7 linked regions of the Homo sapiens genome follow. The protein of the gene in region 1 interacts with the protein of each later gene in a biochemical or structural test. Each region holds a gene or a part of one and is shown in the gene's direction. Other genes may lie near its edges. The genes, in order: EHMT2, RERE, RPA1, MED12, CUX1, FOXO1 and AURKA.

Evidence for each region.
Region 2: the proteins of EHMT2 (region 1) and RERE form a complex in vitro, tested with the Homo sapiens proteins (one study listed by BioGRID).
Region 3: the proteins of EHMT2 (region 1) and RPA1 form a complex in vitro, tested with the Homo sapiens proteins (one study listed by BioGRID).
Region 4: the proteins of EHMT2 (region 1) and MED12 form a complex in vitro, tested with the Homo sapiens proteins (one study listed by BioGRID).
Region 5: the proteins of EHMT2 (region 1) and CUX1 form a complex in vitro, tested with the Homo sapiens proteins (one study listed by BioGRID).
Region 6: of the proteins of EHMT2 (region 1) and FOXO1, one has a biochemical effect on the other in vitro, tested with the Homo sapiens proteins (one study listed by BioGRID).
Region 7: of the proteins of EHMT2 (region 1) and AURKA, one has a biochemical effect on the other in vitro, tested with the Homo sapiens proteins (one study listed by BioGRID).

What each region holds. Positions count from the first base shown.
Region 1 is NC_000006.12:31,887,699-31,891,198, reverse strand, and holds part of EHMT2 (histone-lysine N-methyltransferase EHMT2), read left to right. Parts: intron 1-1,596; coding exon 1,597-1,731; intron 1,732-1,856; coding exon 1,857-1,971; intron 1,972-2,128; coding exon 2,129-2,230; intron 2,231-2,451; coding exon 2,452-2,600; intron 2,601-2,692; coding exon 2,693-2,836; intron 2,837-2,922; coding exon 2,923-3,158; intron 3,159-3,237; coding exon 3,238-3,420; intron 3,421-3,500. UniProt on the Homo sapiens protein: Histone methyltransferase that specifically mono- and dimethylates 'Lys-9' of histone H3 (H3K9me1 and H3K9me2, respectively) in euchromatin.
Region 2 is NC_000001.11:8,352,641-8,356,140, reverse strand, and holds part of RERE (arginine-glutamic acid dipeptide repeats protein), read left to right. Parts: coding exon 1-41; intron 42-541; coding exon 542-722; intron 723-1,020; coding exon 1,021-1,054; 3' UTR 1,055-3,500. UniProt on the Homo sapiens protein: Plays a role as a transcriptional repressor during development. May play a role in the control of cell survival. Overexpression of RERE recruits BAX to the nucleus particularly to POD and triggers caspase-3 activation, leading to cell death.
Region 3 is NC_000017.11:1,875,005-1,878,504, forward strand, and holds part of RPA1 (replication protein A 70 kDa DNA-binding subunit), read left to right. Parts: intron 1-656; coding exon 657-789; intron 790-2,207; coding exon 2,208-2,310; intron 2,311-3,500. UniProt on the Homo sapiens protein: As part of the heterotrimeric replication protein A complex (RPA/RP-A), binds and stabilizes single-stranded DNA intermediates that form during DNA replication or upon DNA stress.
Region 4 is NC_000023.11:71,121,596-71,125,095, forward strand, and holds part of MED12 (mediator of RNA polymerase II transcription subunit 12), read left to right. Parts: coding exon 1-221; intron 222-604; coding exon 605-751; intron 752-912; coding exon 913-1,012; intron 1,013-1,142; coding exon 1,143-1,279; intron 1,280-1,499; coding exon 1,500-1,631; intron 1,632-1,998; coding exon 1,999-2,125; intron 2,126-2,563; coding exon 2,564-2,793; intron 2,794-3,168; coding exon 3,169-3,249; intron 3,250-3,380; coding exon 3,381-3,500. UniProt on the Homo sapiens protein: Component of the Mediator complex, a coactivator involved in the regulated transcription of nearly all RNA polymerase II-dependent genes.
Region 5 is NC_000007.14:102,202,126-102,205,625, forward strand, and holds part of CUX1 (Homeobox protein cut-like 1), read left to right. Parts: coding exon 1-79; intron 80-2,265; coding exon 2,266-2,431; intron 2,432-2,988; coding exon 2,989-3,045; intron 3,046-3,500. UniProt on the Homo sapiens protein: May be involved in intra-Golgi retrograde transport.
Region 6 is NC_000013.11:40,660,142-40,663,641, reverse strand, and holds part of FOXO1 (forkhead box protein O1), read left to right. Parts: intron 1-3,500. UniProt on the Homo sapiens protein: Transcription factor that is the main target of insulin signaling and regulates metabolic homeostasis in response to oxidative stress.
Region 7 is NC_000020.11:56,382,216-56,385,715, reverse strand, and holds part of AURKA (aurora kinase A), read left to right. Parts: intron 1-1,391; coding exon 1,392-1,446; intron 1,447-2,539; coding exon 2,540-2,731; intron 2,732-3,500. UniProt on the Homo sapiens protein: Mitotic serine/threonine kinase that contributes to the regulation of cell cycle progression.

The sequences.
Region 1 (3,500 bases):
CCAAGGCGGGCAGATCACGTGAGGTTGGGAGTTCGAGACCAGCCTGATCAACATGGAGAAACCCCGTCTCTACTGAAAAAAATACAAAATTAGCTGGACGTAGTGGTACGTGCCTGTAATTCCAGCTACTCGGGAGGCTGAGGCAGGAGAATCGCTTGAACCTGGGAGGTGGAGGTTGCAGTGAGCCAAGATCGTACCATTGCACTCCAGCCTCGGCAACAAGAGCGAAACTCCGTCTCAAAAAAAAAAAAATTTTTTTTTGTCTTAGGTCTCTCTCAGTATTTAGGTTTCCCCATCTTCTTTGTGTTTGTTTGTTTGTTTGTTTTTGTTTTTTGAGATGGAGTCTCACACTGTCACCCAGGCTGGAGTGCAGTGGCGTGATCTTGGCTCACTGCAAGCTCCACCTCCTGAGTTCAAGCAATTCTCCTGCCTCAGTCTCCCAAGTAGCTGGGATTACAGGCACCCACCACCATGCCCAGCTAATTTTTTGTATTTTTAGTAGAGGCAGGGTTTCACTATGTTGGCCAGGCTGGTCTCAAACTCCTGATCTCGTGATCTGCCCACCTCGGCCTCCCAAAGCGCTGGGATTACAGGCGTGAGCCACCACACCTGGCCTGATTTCCTCATCTTCTAAAAAAAAATTTTTTGGCCCAGGCGTGGTGGCTCACGCCTGTAATCCCAGCACTTTGGGAGGCAGGTGGATCACCTGAGGTCAGGAGTTTGAGACCAGCCTAGCCAACATGGTGAAAACACATCTCTAATAAAAATACGAAAATTAGCTGGGTGTGGTGGCGGGTGCCTATAATCCCAGCTACTCAGGAGGCTGAGGCAAGAGAATTGCTTGAATCCAGGAGGTGGAGGTTGCAGTGAGCTGAGATCACACCATTGCAATGCAGCCTGGGCAACAAGAGCAAAACTCAATAAATAAATAAGAAAGATTTTTTTTTTTTGCCATTTATTTGTCAAAGAAACCAGCTCAGTTGTCCTACAGAATTTTTCACATTTAGGAGTTGGCTGATTGGGTGGAGATTGACACATCCTCTCTGCCCATATTTCTTGTAAACTGATAGATCTAGAGGCGGAATCAGCTTCAGGTGCCAAGAAGACTTGACAGTGGGTGCAAGTGCTTCTGGCCACATCACATCAGGATGCATGGAACATCTAATCTGGTCATTTTTCTTGTTAGTGATAAGATTGACCAGTGGGTTCAGGTGATGTCAGCCTGAACCTTTCATATAAAGTTTCTCATGAGCTTTGTGTCTAGTGTTTTTAGCAACCATTGGTGGTCTTGCCTGTTTATGAACATCATAAAAGGGGTATCAAAGTATGTTTATCTTCTGGTACTTGCTTTTTGTTTTTTAACTTAATATCACATTACCAAGATCTGTGCACATTGCTGTCTGTAACTTTTTCACTGCTGTGTAATATTCCATGCACCCTCTCTTTATGTGGCCCTTTGTCTCCTCTGCTACCCACACTTATCCCCAGCAGCCATCCGTGGGTAGTGGCGGGGGGCAATGGTGGTGGTGGTTTTCTTTACTCACCTCATTGTCTGAGTCCTGGGGGTTGGATATGTCTGTTCTGCCTCTCTCCCAGTCTGAAGTTGAAGCTCTAACTGAACAACTAAGTGAAGAGGAGGAGGAGGAAGAGGAGGAAGAAGAAGAAGAGGAAGAGGAGGAGGAAGAGGAAGAAGAAGAGGAAGATGAGGAGTCAGGGAATCAGTCAGATAGGGTAAGAGACGGAGGCTGATATCTCCAGAGGAGTGGGAGACTATGGGGCTGGAGGTCTGGTCCTGAAGGTGTTGGGGGGGCCCCTGGGGGTGAGGGTTCCTAACTCCTCCTCCTCCCCCTTCCCAGAGTGGTTCCAGTGGCCGGCGCAAGGCCAAGAAGAAATGGCGAAAAGACAGCCCATGGGTGAAGCCGTCTCGGAAACGGCGCAAGCGGGAGCCTCCGCGGGCCAAGGAGCCACGAGGTGAGGAGGCTCTGCTGCTTTTGGGTGCCCTCCAGCCCCCGCCCGGCCCCCCAGAGTGTGTGCACGCACACACACGCTCTCGCATGTCCACCTGCATGTACCCACGCGTCCAGGCACCTGTGAGCTCGCACTCTCACTCTCTCTGTCTCTGTGTCAGGAGTGAATGGTGTGGGCTCCTCAGGCCCCAGTGAGTACATGGAGGTCCCTCTGGGGTCCCTGGAGCTGCCCAGCGAGGGGACCCTCTCCCCCAACCACGCTGGTAATTGCCAATTGCCGGGACAGGGAGCCACTAGGGGGCGACCTCAGGGCAGGAGGGAAAGGGAAGGAGGGGAACCACGCCAGAGCCGGGGTGTCCATGGCCAGGCTTTAGGGGTTCTGGGGCATGGCGGGGTGGGGTAGGGAGGGAGTGAGAGGACCCGCCAGGGGTCCCAGTAGGTGAGGTGCAGAGCCTCCCTCAGCTCCTCTTTTCCTCCATCCAAGGGGTGTCCAATGACACATCTTCGCTGGAGACAGAGCGAGGGTTTGAGGAGTTGCCCCTGTGCAGCTGCCGCATGGAGGCACCCAAGATTGACCGCATCAGCGAGAGGGCGGGGCACAAGTGCATGGCCACTGAGAGTGTGGACGGAGAGGTGGGGCCGTGGGCTGGTGGGAGAGGTGCCAGGGCGTCCAGTCCCCGGCCCCAGCCTCACGCTCTCTTCTCACCCATCCTCACTGCGCACAGCTGTCAGGCTGCAATGCCGCCATCCTCAAGCGGGAGACCATGAGGCCATCCAGCCGTGTGGCCCTGATGGTGCTCTGTGAGACCCACCGCGCCCGCATGGTCAAACACCACTGCTGCCCGGGCTGCGGCTACTTCTGCACGGCGGTGAGTGACCAGTGGGGCAGACAGGTAGCATGCCCTGTGGCAGAGGGGGCCCCAGTAACCTGACCATGTCGTTTCCCTGCTCCCAGGGCACCTTCCTGGAGTGCCACCCTGACTTCCGTGTGGCCCACCGCTTCCACAAGGCCTGTGTGTCTCAGCTGAATGGGATGGTCTTCTGTCCCCACTGTGGGGAGGATGCTTCTGAAGCTCAAGAGGTGACCATCCCCCGGGGTGACGGGGTGACCCCACCGGCCGGCACTGCAGCTCCTGCACCCCCACCCCTGTCCCAGGATGTCCCCGGGAGAGCAGACACTTCTCAGCCCAGGTACTGGCCTCCCCCTTCTGTACTGTCTGTTCCCTCCCCCACCCCTATTGCTCCTGGACATGAGCTCCTTCTTCCACAGTGCCCGGATGCGAGGGCATGGGGAACCCCGGCGCCCGCCCTGCGATCCCCTGGCTGACACCATTGACAGCTCAGGGCCCTCCCTGACCCTGCCCAATGGGGGCTGCCTTTCAGCCGTGGGGCTGCCACTGGGGCCAGGCCGGGAGGCCCTGGAAAAGGCCCTGGTCATCCAGGAGTCAGAGAGGTGAGTGGGGAGTTGCTCAGGCACAGCAACTGGGGCTGAGGCCAGAGGAGTGGTGTCGAGGCTGATGCTGGAATCTGAGG
Region 2 (3,500 bases), on another chromosome or scaffold:
GCCCCCACACGAGCACGAGATGCTTCGCCACCCAGTTTTCGGTAAGACTTCCCCTCCAGGAGGGGCGGGGAGGCCGTGTGAGGGTTGGGTTGGGGTCTGGTCTGCTGTCTTCATTCATTACTCATTCATTCATTCATGCATTGAGCAGGTGGGTTCGCTCCCCCTGCATGCAGGGGGTCCGTGGGGGAACAAGCCTCCTGCCCTCTGGGGGCTGTCTGGGGTAGGGGTCATAAATGCATCAGCCTTGCTAAGAGCCGGTGAAAGTAGCAGAGGGGACTCACGGCAGGTCTCTGAAGGAGAAGCACTTGGGCTGAGGCCTTGGAGGAGGGGCCAGGCAGGTCCAGGCAGAGGCACCCAAGGGCACCTCCTGCCTCCCCAGAGGCTCTGCCCTCTGGCTGTCTGCAGAGTCTGGGAGGGGCTGGCTCCTGTGTCCGAACTGGCACCTCTCCTGTGCTCTTTGCCGTTTGCTGTGCCTGTGCCGCCCTGGTCTTGGCCAGTCCTCTGGCTATTTCTGTAGCGCAGGTTGTTTTGTGTTCGGCAGGCACCCCCTACCCCCGTGACCTGCCTGGGGCCATCCCACCCCCCATGTCAGCAGCCCACCAGCTGCAGGCCATGCATGCCCAGTCGGCCGAGCTGCAGAGACTGGCCATGGAGCAGCAGTGGCTGCATGGACACCCCCACATGCATGGTGGCCACCTACCAAGTCAGGAAGATTATTACAGGTGAGGTGGGGTGCTGGGAGGGAGTGGAGGGGTTATCTGAGCCCAGGCTCCCAACCTCCCCGTGTGCCCAGGGCCAGGCTCCTCCCCCTCTGCCTGCTGGGCCCTGGAGGGGACATTGTGGAACCATGGTGATGGGAGAAACAGAGGAAGGGAGGTGTTGGGAGGGTAGGTCAGCTACACAGGAGGCTGCGGGCTTGGGGTTGGATTGCCTGGCTGTTGTCTTTGGGGTTGCCTCCAGCCTGCGTGACTGCCTGCCTAGGCCTGAGACTAAATACGCTTTCCTGTTTTGTCTTTCCAGTCGACTGAAGAAAGAAGGTGACAAGCAGTTATAAGTTATTTATTTGTTAACGCTGGCTGTGGAAACCCCAGTTCTTGGGGGGAGAAACAGGACTTTTTACATAAAATAGGAGCTGCAAAAGCAAAAAGAATATCTTCTAAAGATTTCTTTATATATTTAAAAACCCACAACTAAAAATGTATCCACATAGTAGTGTTCGTTTGTCGAGAGGATTTCCTGAGACTGGTTTGGATCTCCCTGCATGACAGTCCCCCAGAAACTTAGTGAGTCCTGGACTGGACTGAACATCCAGAAAGCTTCCCTGCAATCTTGGGGTTTGGCTTTAGTTTTCTTTTCCTTGATTTCTCAGTAGGTGCTAGAATCCAGTTCACACCCTTCACTGTGCGTGCAGACACACTGACACACTCCGCCACGAGTGCTCCAGAGCCCACGAGGCTTGCAGATCGGGGGCATAGGAATTTGGAATCCAAGAGCTATAATTTTTAAAAAAAAAAATCTTTTATTTTAATACATTGTAGGAAATCTTCATAATTGGAGAAAGTTCTGCAGCATGGCTTTTTACGTCTGTAAATAAATAATTTTAGAACAGCCTTTTTTTCTTCCATAAACTACTATTGTGATCTATTTTTTCCAGCCATGTCACTAATTGTGAATTCCTACCAACTATTGACAGAATACAGAGTTGATTTTTTAATAAAAAGTTATATATAATTATCCCTTTAATTAAAGGGAGCAAAGGGGCGTTCCACATGGACAGAGGCTTGGACCGAGGCCTGGTCACAGCAGCGAGCATCCAGGGTTTGCAGGGACGATGTTACAGACTCTGTTTTCTGCCTGGCGTTTCACTTGTGTCTGCTCCTAGCCTGTGCTCTGCCAGCAGCACAGACATCTGCTCCATCAGACCTCTTCCATTTTGCACAGGGAGTGCAGGAGGTGAATGTTCACTTTCTGTTCTCCAGTGTCACTGTTCTGTTTCCACGGGATGGAAAGCGCATGGGCCTGTGTCCATTGTAGATTTCCTTCTAGATTTCTGTGTACACACACTTGATTGTTCTGGATGAATGTCTTTTTTAATACTCCGAAAATTTCATCATCTAAGAAAATGATTCCATACAAATAACTCAGCACACAAGTGACCCAGGACATATGCCTGCCAAAGGGATGTGTTAGAAGGCTGCCTTCTCATGCGCATTGTCACTTGGATCTTGTGGTGAGGACGGCCCCATCTTTCTTGCCACAGATTGAGGCCACTTTTGAGCAAGGGAGATCCTGGAGTTAAGACAGGTGTTGGGGGCAGCCTGTATTTTACCCTAGGGGCAGGTCTGCATGGTGACCCCACATTGCACTGGTAAACCATTTGAGTCCCACTCTTCATCCTGGAAGTGGGAACTGGAGTCCCACCCACAGTGCATTCAGAAAGCATGCTGTGTGGGGGCTGCTTCTCAGGAGGCCAGGCCCTTCTGAGCGGAACCGTCCTGGAGAGAGCCTGCCCTCGTTTCCAGGCTGCAGCCGTAACGCACTTTCTCCCAGGCTGAGGGCGGGTGTTCTGGGGTGTCTGCCCTCTGTCGGCCCTGCTTCCTGCCAGGACGTGGCCTCTTCCGATCCTTTTCTCTCAGACACTGGAGGTCTCTTCTGCCATTGTGCTGGTCCCATCCCAAGAATTGTAGGACAGAGACCACACTGGGTCGGCGGACACAAAGTCCATCCAGGACCCAGGCCGCAGAGGGAGCAGGAAGAGATGCTGATAGTTTGATCTAGAAACCAGCAGCTACTGGCTCAAATTCAGGTTCTGGCGTCAAATAGCGACATTTCCAGTTTCTCTTAAAAACCGTGTTTGGTTTCAGTTGGGATAGGCTTGTTTTGTCTGTTGAAAATGTTTCTAGTTTTTTTTCTTTCATTTTTCTCTCATTCCATTTCTGCCTTAACTTTAGTTTGTTCACAGGGAGGCAAAGCTGACATGAACCTTTTGTCGTGGGACTTCAGGCCACATTGGCTTGAAGGCATTCGTTTCCTTCTGGGGTGGGGACAGGCCCTCATGGCAGGCTTGTTCCCGTGGCTCTGAGCGAGGCCTCTTCCTGCTGGGCTCCCAGACTCCTGCATCCAGGCCCCCACCTTCTCGGCTTCTGGTTTTTCTTTCTTTTTGGTAGAACACAACATCTACCATTCAGTTAAACCTTCTTTATCTCCTCCTTTGGCATCCATTTTTCCAAAGAAGAGTCGAGTCCTCTGAGGTCTGTGCTTGAAAGCCGTCCGAAGGCATTCTTGTTAGCTTTGCTTTTCTCCCCATATCCCAAGGCGAAGCGCTGAGATTCTTCCATCTAAAAAACCCTCGACCCGAAACCCTCACCAGATAAACTACAGTTTGTTTAGGAGGCCCTGACCTTCATGGTGTCTTTGAAGCCCAACCACTCGGTTTCCTTCGGATTTTCCTCCCTTTGTTCGGGGTTTGGTTTGGCTCCTCTGTGTGTGTCCGTATCTTG
Region 3 (3,500 bases), on another chromosome or scaffold:
TTCCCTGTTCTTTCCCAGCGCAGGGCAGCTGCTTAGGTTTGGATTAAGGAGGCGGAAGGGTCTTAGTGGTCACCCACTTAACATATCTTGACCAAAAACTGATTCCTGCCCTTTGCACCCGACGAAACTCATTCTTACAGACTTCATTCTAGACTTGCTAGTCCTTCAGACGCATTGAGATCTGGGAGTTGTCTGGGGATTTGGAGGCGATCTATTTGTGATAGGTCCCTTACATCCTGTCTTTCTTCATGTGACTAGTGCCTTGCCATCAGTTTTACCAGTTACAAAAGTTGATTTTCTTTTTCTCACCCATTATCTTGCCCGTTGAGGCAAGAGAAGTGTTTAAGAGGGCGGCCTTCAGAAACAGCAGTGTCTGGATTCGTCACCATTATTACTTTGACCTCGGGGCTGACATCAGCAAACATAGCAGTGAGCTGCTGTGTGCGCAGCCTTCATCCTAGATTGCTTTTGTAGCCTCCAGCCTCAGTCTCTATTTGATCTGCGTATCTCTTGCATATAAAAAGGAAAAGCTTTGCCTCTCATGTTATATGATTTCACTAGTGGCACCTCCAAAATTTAGAGTTATTGTAAAGCTTACTATAAAAAAGCTAAGTAGAATAGTAATAACTCCTTTTCGTTTGCGTTTGTTTTTAAAGGTTCTACTGTTTCTAAGGCTTATGGTGCTTCAAAGACATTTGGAAAAGCTGCAGGTCCCAGCCTGTCACACACTTCTGGGGGAACACAGTCCAAAGTGGTGCCCATTGCCAGCCTCACTCCTTACCAGTCCAAGTGAGTTGTTGCATAGAGTAAGTTCAGAGTGTACTTATGAAATCGGAGAAGCTATTATGGACTCTTGAGTTATTTATGCGTGAACTTCAGGGTCACCACCAAATACCACCAAATAGAATGGGTTTACTCTTTTTTTTTTTTTTTTTTGCTGAGGAGGAAAGGGGTACAAATTGTGGCAAACTTTTAACTCTTGTTGGAAAATATAGTAACAATAGCAATCTGCCATAGCCTGTGGGGTTTCATTCATTTTGAAAGAATTTGAAATTAAAAATACTTAATGCTTAATCAGTTGATAGTCTTATGAGTAAAAATAAATATTTCTGATAATTCAAAAGGCATTTAATCTTCTCCTATAAACAGGTGACTTCGTCTTTGGTTTAGTTGGCTAAAATAATCTGCACTATTTGTATTAAACACATGAACATACCCTGAACATAAATTTCTTTTATATGACTTTTTTCCACCAAAAATTAATTTGAAGCCGGGCGCGGTGGCTCATGCCCGTAATCCCCGCACTTTAGGAGGCTGAGGCGGGTGGATCACCTGAGGTCGGGAGTTTGAGACCAGCCTGGCCAACATGGTGAAACCGTGTCTCTACTAAAAATACAAAAATTAGCCAGGTGTTGTGGAGCACGCCTGTAATCCCCGCTACTCAGGAGGCTGAGGCAGAAGAATCGCTTGAACCCAGGAGGCGGAGGTTGCAGTGAGCCAAGATTGTGCCACTGCCTTCCAGCCTGAGTAACAGAGTGAGATTCCGTCTCTCAAGATAAATAAACAAAATAAAGTAATTTGAATAGTTAAAAATTAGAGTTCTTTTTTCAGAATCCTTCCAGATATGTTTATATTTATTCTTCAATACTCTGTAACGTAGGAAAGATATTTTTCCCTGTGAAATTATAAGTGGGGTACCTAATGTGCCCTGTGCCTCCTTTTTCCATGCTTCTCTCTAAGGTCATGCTGCTTCAGTGTGTTCTTCCTGATGGTCCACCAACATCGTGTATTCTATTCAGGGTGTGTTACGAATGAGACAGAAGTGTAACACCAGTTATATCAGTTCCCATAATTGAAAACTGTGGCAAAATATAATTGCTGGTGTTACTGTATTTTCCAGCTTAGAACCTTTCATTAAGGGGATATGGTTGCCTTGGTGATGCTTTTTGGAGAAGGGAGAGAGTTTATAAATTTACTTATTTGACAGGAGAATGAGTTAGTATTAAATCACTTTGCATGTTTTACTATTTGCTTATTCTGTAAACTGTCAAACCCATGTGTCATCTTGGGGTTTTAATTAGCTGGATTAAAATACAGGTTGGAAAACGGAATATGCGTAAGACGAGAAAGGCTGTAGGAAGATGATTTCTTACTTGATCTTTTCCAAGGAAGACCCCATACACTAATATGATCGATTTGGTTTGTAGGTGGACCATTTGTGCTCGTGTTACCAACAAAAGTCAGATCCGTACCTGGAGCAACTCCCGAGGGGAAGGGAAGCTTTTCTCCCTAGAACTGGTTGACGAAAGTGTGAGTGTTTGTCATGCTGGGGAGTGAGGGCAGTGGGCTCGCCGGGAAACAGAAGGCTCAGCTCTGCGGAGGGCAGTGGGCTCGCTGGGAAACAGAAGGCTCAGCTCTGCGGAGGGCAGTGGGCTCGCCGAGAAACAGAAGGCTCAGCTCTGCGGGCCTATGAGGTGAAGAATAATAGTAGGCCAGAGAGAAGCATGATTGTTATTGTGCTTTTCCCTCTGTCATAGTCTTTTGATGCTGTCTGGAGTAGAGGGTTAAGGTCATAAATAAAATCTTTGATCTTAAATGACAGCGTTTGTAGCAGTAGAAAGTAGTTTTCTAAATATATAAGTAGCCTCCTGGGCAGGAGAAGCTGGAAACAGTCTGATTTGCTGGCAGGTGTACTGGAAGCACTGGGAGGTGATGCCTGCTTGTGAGCGCCGTGGAGCTTTGGGACACAGCAGAAGGCACACAGTTGTGACCTCGATATGGGAGTGGTTTTGTGGGAAATGGGTTCTGACTGTGCAGATTCTCTATTTGCTTTATTTAAACTAAACAAAACCATGACGATGAGACAAAATTCCTATGCCATGGAAGTACGACAGTCTTGATAGCTGTTAATCAGTCCATTCGTTTTGCTAATAATTCCTGAAATTGCCGGGTGTGGTGGCTCACGCCTGTAATCCCAACACTTTGGGAGGCCAGGGTGCACAGATCACTTGAGGTCAGGAGTTCGAGACCAGCCTGGCCAACATAGTGAAACCCCGTTTATACTAAAAATACAAAAATTAGCTGGGTATGGTGGCAGGTGCCTGTAGTCCCAGCTACTTGGGAGGCTGAGGCAGGAGAATCAATCGCCTGAACCAAGGAGGTGGAGGTTGGAGCCAGCCAAGATTGCACCACTGCACTCCAGCCTGGGCGACAGAGTGAGACTCCATCTCAAAAATAATAATAATTCCTAAAATGTACTTCAGCATTCTTTTCAAAGTGCTGCAGATTTCCTGTTTGTTCAGACTCCCAAATAGGGAGAAAAAAATAGATGTTTTTTTTGGAAGTTGATATAACACCCAAAATGTTTGTGTGATGGCAGAATCAATATTAGAACCTAATTTTTTTTTAGAAATTATTGCTCTAATGTATGGTGGTTGGCTAAAATTTCTTGTCCACTTGTAAATTTTGGCTGACAGAAAAGCAAAAGTGAAAATCAGATC
Region 4 (3,500 bases), on another chromosome or scaffold:
CCCGCCGGCTTGCCTACTTCTGTACACGGAGACTGGCCCTGCAGCTGGATGGTGTGAGCAGTCACTCATCTCATGTTATATCTGCTCAGTCAACAAGCACGCTACCCACCACCCCTGCTCCTCAGCCCCCAACTAGCAGCACACCCTCGACTCCCTTTAGTGACCTGCTTATGTGCCCTCAGCACCGGCCCCTGGTTTTTGGCCTCAGCTGTATCCTACAGGTAGGTACTAGGCGGGCCCAAGGAAGCATTGAGAGATAGCCTGAGAAGAATCAGGTGCCCATCCCAGAGAATAGGGGTAATTCCAAATTGGATGTGGGAGTAGGTGCTGAGTACTTGCTTGGAGGTTGTTGTTTCTTGGTAATGGGGTGTTAGTCCCCTTTGGGGGTTTTCACCAGCCTCTCTCTCCCTTCCAAGGCTAAATAGTGGGCCCAAAGCCTTTTAGGAAAGTGAGTGAAGGGAGGGGATCGGGGTGGAGTGATGCCTGTCTTGGGGACCCAGTCAGAATAACTTTGGATCTGGAATCTACGGGTTGGGTCTTAGAATGGGATTCCAGAGGGGTAACCATGGTGAATGAGTTGGACTTAGCTGTTTCTATCTGGTAGACCATCCTCCTGTGCTGTCCTAGTGCCTTGGTTTGGCACTACTCACTGACTGATAGCAGAATTAAGACCGGCTCACCACTTGACCACTTGCCTATTGCCCCGTCCAACCTGCCCATGCCAGAGGGTAACAGTGCCTTCACTCAGCAGGTATGTCTGACCACTAGCCTGGTACTCTCAGATTGGGCTATGAGGCTAAATTACTCTTTCAGAAGTAGTGATTTGGAGTCTAGTACTATTCTTCTAGCCTGGGGCTCTGGCCTTTTATATGCCTTGGTACATCCTTGTAGCCTTCCTTTTTAACATTGCAGGTCCGTGCAAAGTTGCGGGAGATCGAGCAGCAGATCAAGGAGCGGGGACAGGCAGTTGAAGTTCGCTGGTCTTTCGATAAATGCCAGGAAGCTACTGCAGGTATGTGTCAGAGAACAGATAATAGGAAATATGTTTGAGGAAAGGATGGGGATAGTAAGGACATGTAGATCTAAGAGCCAGAATGCACCGGGCCTCTGGTTCAGTCCCCTTTACCACTTTTCCTCCTTAGGCTTCACCATTGGACGGGTACTTCATACTTTGGAAGTGCTGGACAGCCATAGTTTTGAACGCTCTGACTTCAGCAACTCTCTTGACTCCCTTTGTAACCGAATCTTTGGATTGGGACCTAGCAAGGATGGGCATGAGGTAAGCGAAAAGGGGAATAGAAGGAGCAAAAAACATTGCAAGAGCAATAATATGTCTGAGAGGGAAGTCATGGTGAGGCATTGAAAGCAGAGCATATCTGCAGAAATGATCTTACTGGGCCCAGGATGTTTTATGATAGAGCCCAGTCTTTAGGAAATTGGAACTCATTTCTTTGTCCCCACCCCTACCTTACTCCTCCTTCTCTTCCTTTGTTCTCCAGATCTCCTCAGATGATGATGCTGTGGTGTCATTGCTATGTGAATGGGCTGTCAGCTGCAAGCGTTCTGGTCGGCATCGTGCTATGGTGGTAGCCAAGCTCCTGGAGAAGAGACAGGCGGAGATTGAGGCTGAGGTTAGAGGGCAGAGATAAGAGAACAAGATTGGCCAATGGGAAGGAATTTACTGCGGTTGGAGACCGAGAGATGGAGGTGGTGGAGGGACCAGAGTTGAAGGTGTGAGAACAGAGTAAAGAAGCAAAAGAGAACCTAAAGGCAAAGTTACGGACGTGAGGCGAAAGTAGAGAAGAGTGGATTGTAGTAAGAGTTAGAGATAACATCAAGGCTTCAGTTGGGAGGTGGTAAAGAACATGGAGGTCAGCAGGGGAATGAAAGTGAAAAGCATGGGGTAGAGGTCAAGCAGGTGGTAGTTTAAGGCCTACACATTGAGGAGTGAAGAAGCAGGTAAAAGTCAGTTCTACAATTTGTTCTGTCATCTTGCAGCGTTGTGGAGAATCAGAAGCCGCAGATGAGAAGGGTTCCATCGCCTCTGGCTCCCTTTCTGCTCCCAGTGCTCCCATTTTCCAGGATGTCCTCCTGCAGTTTCTGGATACACAGGCTCCCATGCTGAGTACGGACCCCTACCACTCTCTAGTTACCTCTGCCTAGACTCAGTTACCCACCACTGTCATCAGAAAGCATAATTAACAGCCCTCTGGTCTATATTTCTCTCTTGGGCTCTATGCAGAATGACTTTTAGATGTAGTTCTAGTGATCCTCTTTAACTGGTCATCTTACAGTTAAACAGAGTAGAGAAATACAGAGAAGGATAAAAACAAGAGCTTGTGATTGAAGCATTTTCACTGCATAAATCGCAACAAAGATGTTACATTCCTTTCTGAGATGATGTGTGGGACAGCATGTGGGGTAACCAACCACACTTTGTCCCTCAACAATTTCTGGGATTTCTATTTGATCACTCTTATTATTGCCTTAGGTGTGTCCCTCTCTCTTTTGGCCCACCTTTTTGTGTTCTCCTAACTTATGTTTCCTCATTCCCTTCCTCCAGCGGACCCTCGAAGTGAGAGTGAGCGGGTGGAATTCTTTAACTTAGTACTGCTGTTCTGTGAACTGATTCGACATGATGTTTTCTCCCACAACATGTATACTTGCACTCTCATCTCCCGAGGGGACCTTGCCTTTGGAGCCCCTGGTCCCCGGCCTCCCTCTCCCTTTGATGATCCTGCCGATGACCCAGAGCACAAGGAGGCTGAAGGCAGCAGCAGCAGCAAGCTGGAAGTGAGTGGGCTTTTCCTTGCACTAGATCGTTTCTTCTGACATTTCCATCTTCATGGCTCCCAGGGGCCTCTAAGAGCCTCTTTTGCCTGGGGGAGGGGGGTAGTATTTTTCTTAGCACTTGGTGATTGACCAAGCACTCTCACATCAATTGTTTCATTGGTTCCTCCCATCAGCCTTGTGAGGTACTCTTATCCCCATTTTCAAACTGAAGAAAACAGAGGCCTATACTGGTTAAGTGATTGGATGAGGCTTGACTCCAGATCCTGTGCTTTCCCCAATCTGGTCTTCTCTCTCCACTTCCCCAATGAAGTTTTACAGATGGTGGGAGCCACTCCCTAGGGCTAAAGCAACTTCGCTTATGTTCTATGCCCTCAGGATCCAGGGCTCTCAGAATCTATGGACATTGACCCTAGTTCCAGTGTTCTCTTTGAGGACATGGAGAAGCCTGATTTCTCAGTAAGTTCAATCCTGAGCGTGGCAGAATCTGGATCCTTGGATCTTCCCATTATGCCTGCTTTTGGCATGTTTTTTTGCCCCCTCATCCACTTTCCTTCTTCTCATGTTCTGCTTTCTCACCTTTCTCTCAGTTGTTCTCCCCTACTATGCCCTGTGAGGGGAAGGGCAGTCCATCCCCTGAGAAGCCAGATGTCGAGAAGGAGGTGAAGCCCCCACCCAAGGAGAAGATTGAAGGGACCCTTGGGGTTCTT
Region 5 (3,500 bases), on another chromosome or scaffold:
GGACACCATCGAGCTCACCCGGCAGGTTAAGGAAAAGCTGGCCAAGAACGGCATCTGCCAGAGAATCTTCGGGGAGAAGGTAAGGGATCTGCTCTGGGGGCTTTGGTTCTCCCATCTCTTCTCCTTGCTGAGGACCAAGTATCTATCCCGCAGCCTGTGACCCTCACCCATTTCAATTCACCCAAGAGCAGAGCGTAAGGCATCCTCTGCTCCCAGACTTCCAAGGTGCGGCTGGTGAACATTGCAGCCCCGATCCCATTTGCCGAGCCCCGACTGCAGCCAGGTTCTAGGCTCAGCCTTTCACCTGCATGCTGCCCTTTCGACCCCTCACTTGGCGCTGGGAAGTGGATGGTAAAATCCCCAATTGACAGGGAAGGACACCAAGGCTTGGGGACGTTAACTACTTGCCCCAAGCTGACCGGCAGCCGAGTCCACATCCAGCTTTTGCTGCCAAGGGGAGCTGAGAGGCACCCCTGCAGGCTTCCTTGGCCAAAAAAAATCCCATCTGATCACACAGAGGGACCACCAGTACGCAGAGAGCCAAAAGGGACTTACTAGAAAAAGCTGCAGAGAGCATTATTGTTCCTTTCTGTGTAACTCTTGGATATTGTTCAGTCAGAGAGGTCAAGCAACCTGCCCGGGGACACACAGCTTGGGGATGGCCCAAGCAGGGTGGCCCGTGTTTCCCTATCATCCTTCCCTGGCTCAGGAAAGTGTAATCGTGCATGGACGAGCTTCTAGGCCTTTCTGTTCTTGGCACTTTCCTGGTCACTGAGATTCAGGAGAATGAGGGTTAACCGTGCCTGCCAAATCTAAAATAAACATCATGTCCTAGTATCATTTTATTTATTTATTTTTTGAGATGGCGTCTCACTCTGTCGCCCATGCTAGAGTGCAGTGACGCTATCTCGGCTCACTGCAACCTCTGCCTCCTGGGTTCAAGCGATTCTCCTGCTTCAGCCTCCTGAGTAGCTGGGATTACGAGTGCCCACCACCACACCCAGCTAATTTTTCTATTTTTAGTCGAGTCAGGGTTTCACCATGTTGGCCAGGCTGGTCTCCTGACCTCAAGTGATCTGCCTGCCTTGGCCTCCCAACCCCCTACCATTTTAGATTAAATAACGGAGTGCTGAATAGAAGGAGAAGCACCCCTCTCCCCTAAAAGGCACCTTCCTGAGGGAGCACGTGGCTGGATCAGCAGGGGACAAATCCCACCCCCTCCCCTGCCAAGCCAGGGTCCCTGCATGGCGCCGTCCCCGCACTCCCCACCCCGCCTTCCACTCAGTGTTTGCCGTATGCTGTGCTGTGAATCCCGGTGGTGTCCGATGGCGAACTTTGCCCTGATTTTGCAAAAGGTGAAGGGGGGCGACTAGAAATGAGGATGAGTATTTCAAGTCCCTTGAGATTTCTAGTTCAGTGTTGTAAAAATACCATTTGAGAACATTGAAATAGACATTCGTGCTCATGCCTTAAATTTAGCAGAGACTTAATAACATTGAACTTGTTTGGCCCGTGAGTGCAGTTTTATTCTGGAACTTGAGAACTTTTCAAAAGAGTGATCGGATGCAGCCCCTAAATATCCCAGGGCGGCATCTGTGTCCTGTGGGGGGTGTTTGTGCCTATACATATGTATGGCCATATGGGAGCGTCAGAAAACTCGGGTGTGTACACGCAACTCGGCAATCATCTGCGGCGGAATGTCACTCCCAGGCCGGCTCCCCAGGTCCCACCAGCTCACCTCTGGGCCCCCACCTTTGATCAGGATGTGGTCAGAACAAGCAGACCTTTCTAAATGCTGGCCTGGCTCAGCGTTTGCAGAGGACACCAGCTTCGCCAGTCCCACCGGCACCCACTGCCCCACCTCTGGAGGGATCTTGTCCCTGGAACCTTAGCCTTTCCCGGTGCCACCAAGTGAAGAGCAAGGTGCTTGTACACACCTCCTCCGCGGGGTGTCAGGGTGACAGCCCTGCCATCTTGGCAGGATCAAGACCCTGGGATGAGACCCTCTTCCCTCCCTGGGAGCTGAGAGCTGTGGCTGTAACCATGGCTCACCCGAAAGTCCCCCTGTGCCGGGGTCTCAGCCACCGTTGATCTTTAAATGCATATTCCCTGCCCACAAGCTGTCACCGCCACCAGGCCGTGGTTCTGTGCTCAGAAGTCAGCCCTAGACGCGCCCTCTGCGTGGTGGGTGTGCATTGCAGCAGCATCTGTGGTGTCATGCTAATAGCCAGGCACTGATGGCCTGTGTGTTCGGTGCCACTCCAGGTGCTGGGCCTGTCCCAGGGCAGCGTCAGCGACATGCTGTCCCGACCGAAGCCATGGAGCAAGCTGACGCAGAAAGGCCGAGAACCCTTCATCCGGATGCAGCTCTGGCTGAACGGCGAGCTAGGCCAGGGTGTTCTACCCGTCCAGGGCCAGCAGCAAGGGCCAGGTAATGGGGGTCCTGCCACAGGAGAGGGGCTGCCCCCCCATAGCAAGGACCTGGTCACAGCAGCCCCACCTGGGCTATGCAGAGAGGGAGGAGGGAACTCCGCCCCAGGAGGTGGCCAACCACACTCCCCACCGTGGGCTGGTGCTGGGGGACAGAACCGTCCCCTTCCTCCACAACCTGTTGCCGTGGGACTGACTTCAGTGTTTAGGAGAGATCATGCCTGTCTAATTTTATAAGCAGCAGAAAATGAGTTACCAATTTAAAAAATGCTGTTTATACATAAATACAGGTAAAAGTCAAGTAGCTGAATCAGGGAGTCAGGAAAGAAAGTCAGCCAAAGGTACAAAAGTGGAAGATGTCACAGGCGAAACCTTTCACCTGCTCCCGGCCCGGGGGCCTGGCCTTGCAACAGCAGCGCCTCCCCGGCCCGTGGGTCCCCATGCCCGCCCCTCCCCAGGAGGAATGGGAAGCCTCCCCGGGCCTTGCCACATTCAGTTAGGAAGCTTTAAGCCCTGGGCCGCGTTCCTTCCTTTAATTATAACCTTTTTCTACTTTAGTCCTCCACTCCGTGACATCGCTCCAGGACCCGCTGCAGCAGGGCTGTGTGAGCTCAGGTAAGCAGCCAGTTTCTGTTGCTTTTGCATGAAATGTCTCACTGCCTTTTCTGTTGTCCCGTGCTGTGGTCTGTCCCGGCGAGACTCCGAGGGACCGCACATTCTGGATTTGGGGAGCTGAAATATGGCATCCTATCTGCAAACGGGGTCCCTCTCTGTGTCAGTTTCTAATGGAGAGCGAGCTGACAGTGCATGGAGGGACTCTGCCAAGATTTGCACGCCCACTGTCATCCTTTGTCGGCCCAGAGCCTTGTGTTCAGGGCTGGGGTCTAAGTCGGAGACAGATTCCCCACTCAGGGGGCTTACCGTCTGATAGGAAGGGATAAAGCACGGGCACACGTCCCTCTCCTGGTGGGGTCATGTCGGGGGACTTCTTATCTAACCGGAAGACATCCAGGCAGCCTCTGAGCAAGAAAATGGGGAGCTTTGAGCTTGAGCAGTGGGAAAGGTAGGGT
Region 6 (3,500 bases), on another chromosome or scaffold:
AATTGTCTGCCAAATCTTGTTTTACTTAACATTTGAATTTAAGTACTTGACTTACTTGCTCATCTATCAATTCCACTTCAGCTGTTACAGAGTATTAGCCATTTAAAAAAAAAATCCTCCCCCCTTTTTTTGCATTCAAAGTACAGTGTGTACTTACACCATTCTTTAGTCCTTGGAAATGGATACAACCTACTTCAACTTGCTGGAGTGCCTTTCTTTAAAGATAAAGGAAGTGTTTTGGGATATTTTTAGTTTTGCGTCTCAAATGGCATTGTCAGAGTGTTAGTCTTAAACTAGGAATATGCTTACACTTTTTAAGATTTAGGTTTTTAAAAAATAGATTCTGATGTTAAATCATCTTTACAACCATTTTTATCAGGTTCTTGTTCTGATTTTTTTAAAAATGCAAGAATAATTTAGTTTTTTTTTAAATTTATTTGCCAGAGCTAGGAGACCTGTTAAGTTATCTGTCTGGAATTGGAGGCCCTTGGGCAGCTCCCAGTGGGAGCCTAATGGGGCTTTGCTTTGGAGTAGGCTGCCTTTCTCAAATGAGTAAGTGTTTCAGGTGTAATGTCAGTTGGTTTAAGTCTGATTGCAGCAAGTACATTTTCAGTTTGAGTAAAAGGGTATTTTAAGAAGAAAAGAAACAACCTGAGCTGTTCTAACTCATAACTAGTCTTTTGGTTAGTTTCATAAAAATGAGTTACTTGTTAAAACCAAGTTTCACTCTCAGATCTGAAAGACTCCTGTTCTAAGAGTCATAAAAGAGAAATTTTACTATGAATTTTAACTTAAATCCAGTTTTTAAATGCAAAGCAACCAAAACTTAACTGTTTTAGGACCGAGGAGAGGTTGCTTTGGCACAAAATATTTCCTGTGATTTACTACTGGGAATTAGGCTGAATCTTTAATTAAATAGTTTCTTGTGTGCTGCTTCCTGGGGCCTGCCTGAAAGTTTGAGTCATTTGCATAGGACAAACTAGTTGGAAAACTGTTAATGAATTCAAAAACTTTTAATGTCATTCTTTAGATAGTTAAGTGCTGGTTATATTTGAAGGATATGCATTTTGTGTTTGTGGGGATGGTATGTTAAATGTCTTACACTTGTTGTAATATTGGCTAGAATTGCTATAAGGTCACACACAAAGTGGAACCTAAGACTTTTGGAAAACCCGGGATCTTCTAAATCTAGTGCAGTATTTATAAATAATGAAACTTCATTTCCATGACCTGTTTTTTCACATAGAAAGCCTTCTAAAGCTTGGGAAGTGGTAGTTTGAACTCTGATTTTTTTTAATAAATGGCAGTTTTGAGTTGACTCTTTTGATATTATTAGGAACACTTTAGGTTAAAAGAATGACTTTGACTATACCACTTAACTCTTGTTAAATAAATTTTTAGATTGTTTTATTAGAGGTATCCTCTTTGATTTAAAGATAAATATCTTTTTTTTTTTTTTTTTTTTTTTTTTGAGTCAGAGTCTCACTCTGTTGCCCAGGCTGGAGTGCAGTGGCGCAATCTCGGCTTGCTGCAACCTCCGCCTCCCAGGTTCAAGCAATTCTTCTGCCTCAGCCTCCCGAGTAGCTGGGACTACTGGCACGTGCCACCATGCTTGGCTAATTTTTGTATTTTTAGTAGAGAGGGGGTTTCACATATTGGCTTGGCTGGCCTCGAACTCCTGACCTCGTGATCTGCCTGCCTTGATCTCCTAAAGTGCAGAGATTACATGCGTAAGCCACCGTGCCTGGCCCCAAAGCTTTTTATTTTTAAGATAAATCTTTAATTGGGAGTGATGTTTCTTATTTGGCCTATGAACTGACAGTGGATTTCCTTATGTTTTGAAATAAATATTCTGTAATTTGGGTATAATCTATAGGTGAGTAATTGAACCAGCCACAGAGATCCCGTTAGAAAGATGGCTGCTTTTTTGTTGCATGGTCACATTTGACTTAGAGAATCCTGGTGAGACCGAGTGGTTAGAGGATCTGAGACATCTTTCCTACTTCTGGATTGTCACTGAAATTACCTTAAAGAAAGCCTTGATAGGCTGGGCGTGGTGGCGCACACCTGTAATCCCAGCACTTTGGGAGGCTAAGGTGGGCGGATTGCCTGAGCTCAGGAGTTCAAGACCACCCTGGGCAACATGGTGAAACCTCATCTCTACTAAAATACAAAAAATTAGCCGGGTGTGGTGGCAGGTGCCTGTAGTCCCAGCTATCGTGCCAATAATCCCAACTACTCGGGAGGCTGAGGCAGGAGAATCGCTTGAACCTAGAAGGCGGAGGTTGCAGTGAGCCGAGATCACGTCACTGACCTCCAACCTGGGCAACAGAGGGAGACCCTGTCTCCAAAAAAAAAAAGAAGAAAGCCTTGATAATCCTGTATATGTACTTGGGGAAGCGATAATGAAGAAATAATTTAAAATGGATGAGGGGGTTATGCAGCTAAATGTAGCATCTTATTAAGGGCTGAAAGTTACCTGAATCTATTTGAGAGCTAAAACATTTTGTTCAGAAATTCCAAAATAGATGCCAAATTGGAATACTTCATTTCAGACTCCCAAGAGCTTTACTTTTTACGCATGGTTTTGTGGCATGTCCTTGGTTGAGGGGATGGCGAGAAGAGTGGCCTCTTTTTGAATGATTCTCATTTTTGTTGTTGTTGTTGTTGTTGTTGTTGTTGTTGTTGTTGTTTTTCTGAGCCAGGGTCTCACTCTGTTGCCCAGGCTGGAGTGTAGTGGCTTGATCTCAGCTCACTGCAACCTCTGCCTGCCCCTGGCTCAAGTGATCCTCCCACCTCAGCCTCCCGAATAGTTGGGATTATCGGCACGAGCCACTGCTCATGGACTAGTTTTTTTTAAGTGACAAACACTTGACTATTGAAAATAAGGCATTTTAATTCTCATGTAAACTTGAAAAAAGTTAAAGGTCTTCAAGATCCCAAAATTGCTGAAAAGGTATCACATTAGCAGCAGACACATAGATTTCATGCTCCGCACACACAAGGAATCTTCTCCGAGGCGATACGAAATGGGATGAGGGGGAAGAATATTCAGTGGCAAGTTAGAATGCCTTGCAGACTGTAAACATGTTGCCTGTCCTTGTGCTTCTAGCCCCTTCATCCAAGCATCTAAACTGCAGTTTTGTGTTAGGCTTTCTAAGATAGCAGCTGTATTTGGCTGGAATTTCTCTGGGGAAGCCTGAATGATTTGCATTTTTCTGGAACACTCTGCCCTTGGAAACTACCCAGTTCCCTGGCATCATGGGAATTTACCCAGCCATTTTTTTGGCCTATATGTGCTGTAGCTTTGGGGCTTTTTGGGGATCCTCTTGGAAAGGCAGTGTAAATACCACATAGTGATTGGGGAAGGCAGAATTTTCAATTGTGTGGGAGTTGGTCTGCTTCCCTGCAGTTCAAGATTTGCCTTTGCCTTTGTAGCAACAACTTGCAGAGACTTGCCCAGCCCCCCCAGGATCTCCCTGGGGTCATATAACCAAGCA
Region 7 (3,500 bases), on another chromosome or scaffold:
ACCGAGGCAGGTGGATCACCTGAGGTCAGGAGTTGGAGACCAGTCTGACCAACATGGAGAAACCCTGTCTCTACTAAAAATACAAAATTAGCCAGGCGTGGTGGTGCACGCCTGTAATCCCAGCTACTCAGGAGGCTGAGGCAGGAGAATGGCTTGAACCCAGGAGGTGGAGGTTGTGGTGAGCCGAGATTGTGCCATTGCATTCTAGCCTGGGCAACAAGAGCAAAATTCTATCTCAAAAAAAAAAAAAAAATTTACTGTGGAAGTACTGAATAAATTGGAGTAGAACGCTGGATTTAGGAGTACCAGACAGGAAGGAGGTTGAGGTCAGAGATGGCAATAACCTGCTCTGTGTGGAGCAGAGTGGATGCAATTATTTACCAACTGTTGAGTGCTCATTCCCTGCAGGCTCTGAGATAAGTGCGTGCTTCATCCACGTCATCTCTTTCAATCTTCGTAACCACTTCATGAAGGTAGCCAGTTATTAACTCAGTTTTACAGAGGAGGAAGCTAAGACTCAGAAGCAGTTAACTTATCCAAAGACAAGCCAGGATGGAGAGGTGCACACAAATTTGAGAGCTCATTTACGATGCAGACTCATTAGAACTGGGCAATAAATTGTACCTGAAAGATGAATAAAGAGGAGTTAGGGATGGTGATTAGATTGATATTAATTGAGTGAGTGTCCTGGGGGTTGAGGGGTGCACATGTGACAGGGGCATCTGGAGGAAGAGTTTGGACCAGCATCCAGATATCTGAGCAGAGCATTGTGTGCTGTTCGAGTTTGCTATGTTGGAGACAGACCAGTGGAAATGTTTCATATGTCCTTGTGGCTGATGAAATAGTTACCCCAGTCCTCTGCTGCACAACTGTTCATTGTGCATTTTGCTGAATTGGTGGCTTTTATTTTTATATTTCCCCTTGGCAGCTAATATAAATGGAGGGTGGCTGGCTTATGTTTTGCTACATGTTGGTGATAATTCGTATGTAGGGTATGGACTGTTGGCTGGCCCACCTAGTAAGGGGAAAAAGGTGACGAGTTGGCAGCTCGTCATGCATGGGAAGATTGGTACTTCTGCCACAAAAGCTCTTCTTTGGAAACTGAGGCTTCAGAAGAGCCTGCATAGTCTGCCTTTAATTTATCAGAGAAGGGCCTGTCTATATATACGTCTGCTCATCTTTAGAAATTCTATAAAGGCTTCACATGATGGAAGTCAGGGTGTAGTAGTCCTTTTTTTCTATAAGGAAAACTTTAAAAAAAAAAAACAGATTTATCATTCTTGACATACCATTAATATTTTGGTGACCAATTCTTTGATTCACCTCTATTCACAGCTTAGCTTATCCTATATAGTTATTCTAAAAACAGGTTTTTAACTTATTCCATATAGAAAATAATCCTGAGGAGGAACTGGCATCAAAACAGAAAAATGAAGAATCAAAAAAGTAAGCTTTCTTATTTACAAAGTTCTGTACTGTTCTACTAGAATATATTATTTCGTTGCAAATTTCGTTGTGGGAACTCTGGGGAAAAAAATGAGGCCTTTATTTGCATTTAGAGGATATAAATGTTTCCAGATTTCCAATCTTAAAAAAAATGGAATTTTGTGTAATGAGGTATTTTACTAGGAACTCAAGTGCTTTAAAAAATGGCTTTCAAATTTAGAAAAAGCTTGTATGAATCTTTTATAGAAATGTGTGGAAGTTCCTCTCTGTCCTTAGAAATAACCACTACATATGGTTTATGCGTCTGTACTTTTTTATTGTACAAAAGTGCAAGTTTTTAAAAAATAGAATATGTTGCAGAACTATATACTCATATATGACTGAGGGTTTTGACAGTATTATAGTTTTAGTTCTTTATTGTAAAGGTTGGCTGTAATGTCTTCCCCAGGGCTTTTCTAAAAGCCTCCTCTCAGTCTCTGAACTATCTGGACTCTAGAATGTACCGGGAGGAGCGAGGAATGAACCCACAGACTCTTTTGCTTTTAGCGGTCTAACAGAGGCTAAGAGTCTAAATCCACTGGTTCTCATGCCCCAGCTAGCCTGTGGGCTCCATCCCGCTTCCATTAGTAACAGTGGCTCTGTCTCCACCACCAGAGTGGTTCTCCACCCAGAGAGAATTAGCACCTCTGGGACTGGAGGGAGCAGCTGGGGTTAGTTTGAAACATGCCCCCAGATGGTCTGGAAGCATTCCTCCCTCTCTGGTCACTTATCCTTTTTGTGGTCTTCAGCGTTGTCATGGCCCTGTTCCTCTGAGCATAGTACGGGCTTGGGACATTTCCCATAGAGTGCTTCAGGTCTAAAACCCGAGACTGCTCCTTGTCACTGACTCTCACACCTGACGGCAGCTAGGGACGTCAGGGTTTCATGTCGTGGCAGCTCTTTGATAGTGGTTATTGCCTTGGTTCTTGCTGAGGATGCATATTGAGTGAAGTTGGAATACGAAATTATTTGTAGAATGTGTCTGCTACTCATTGAAAATTTGTTAGAAAAGCTTTGTTTTCTTCACATTCTAAAGTGTTCAAATTCCTCCTAGGAGGCAGTGGGCTTTGGAAGACTTTGAAATTGGTCGCCCTCTGGGTAAAGGAAAGTTTGGTAATGTTTATTTGGCAAGAGAAAAGCAAAGCAAGTTTATTCTGGCTCTTAAAGTGTTATTTAAAGCTCAGCTGGAGAAAGCCGGAGTGGAGCATCAGCTCAGAAGAGAAGTAGAAATACAGTCCCACCTTCGGTGAGTTTTCAGGTTCATGTTCAAAAGAATGTTCACCAATGCTGCACCCCTCCCCCTCCTGTAATGTCAGCCTCCCACTGCCCAGGTCCCTTCACTCCCTCTTACGAGGCACTGCCTTCAAATGCATGGCCCCGTTCCTCACCTCCCCCTCCCCTATGAAAAAGATTAGATAAGCTTCTGTACTGCACTGGGTTATAAGCATTCTCCTGTGATTCTCCCATGCTCTGCATGTTAAAATAAAATTGTATTCCTTTTTTTTTTTTTAAGTATAAATTTATTTTTTAGAGGGCCTGCTTTTCATAGTACCACAAAAAATGATTAAATTTGTCATCTTTCAAAGAGCACTTAAGTGCTCTGATCCTGGAAAAATCACTTGAGGATTTAATGTTTTGTTAATAGAATAGTTTATATGGGCAAGTCTTTCTGGTGGACAGTGAAGGGGAATGGCACCCCTTATTCTGAGGTATGCAGGAATTGCGAGCAGCTACCTGCAGGTTGACTACGGCTGGTGGGTTTTTGTTTTTCCTTTTTTTCTTTCAGTGTTTTTCAAATTTGAATCAGATGCTAATACTTCAAGTCTGGCCACATCAGGCCTGGTGTGTCTCTGCCTGGCAACACCTGGCTGGGGCTGGGAGGGGCAGGCATCTCACATGGGCTGTGCTTCCCATTGCCTGCTTCCCGCTGGCCACAGTCTGCACCTGCCCAGTCTGCTCAGCACCCATCTACTGCCATTACTGATCACTGCTTTTATCTGTCACAGTGTCTGGGT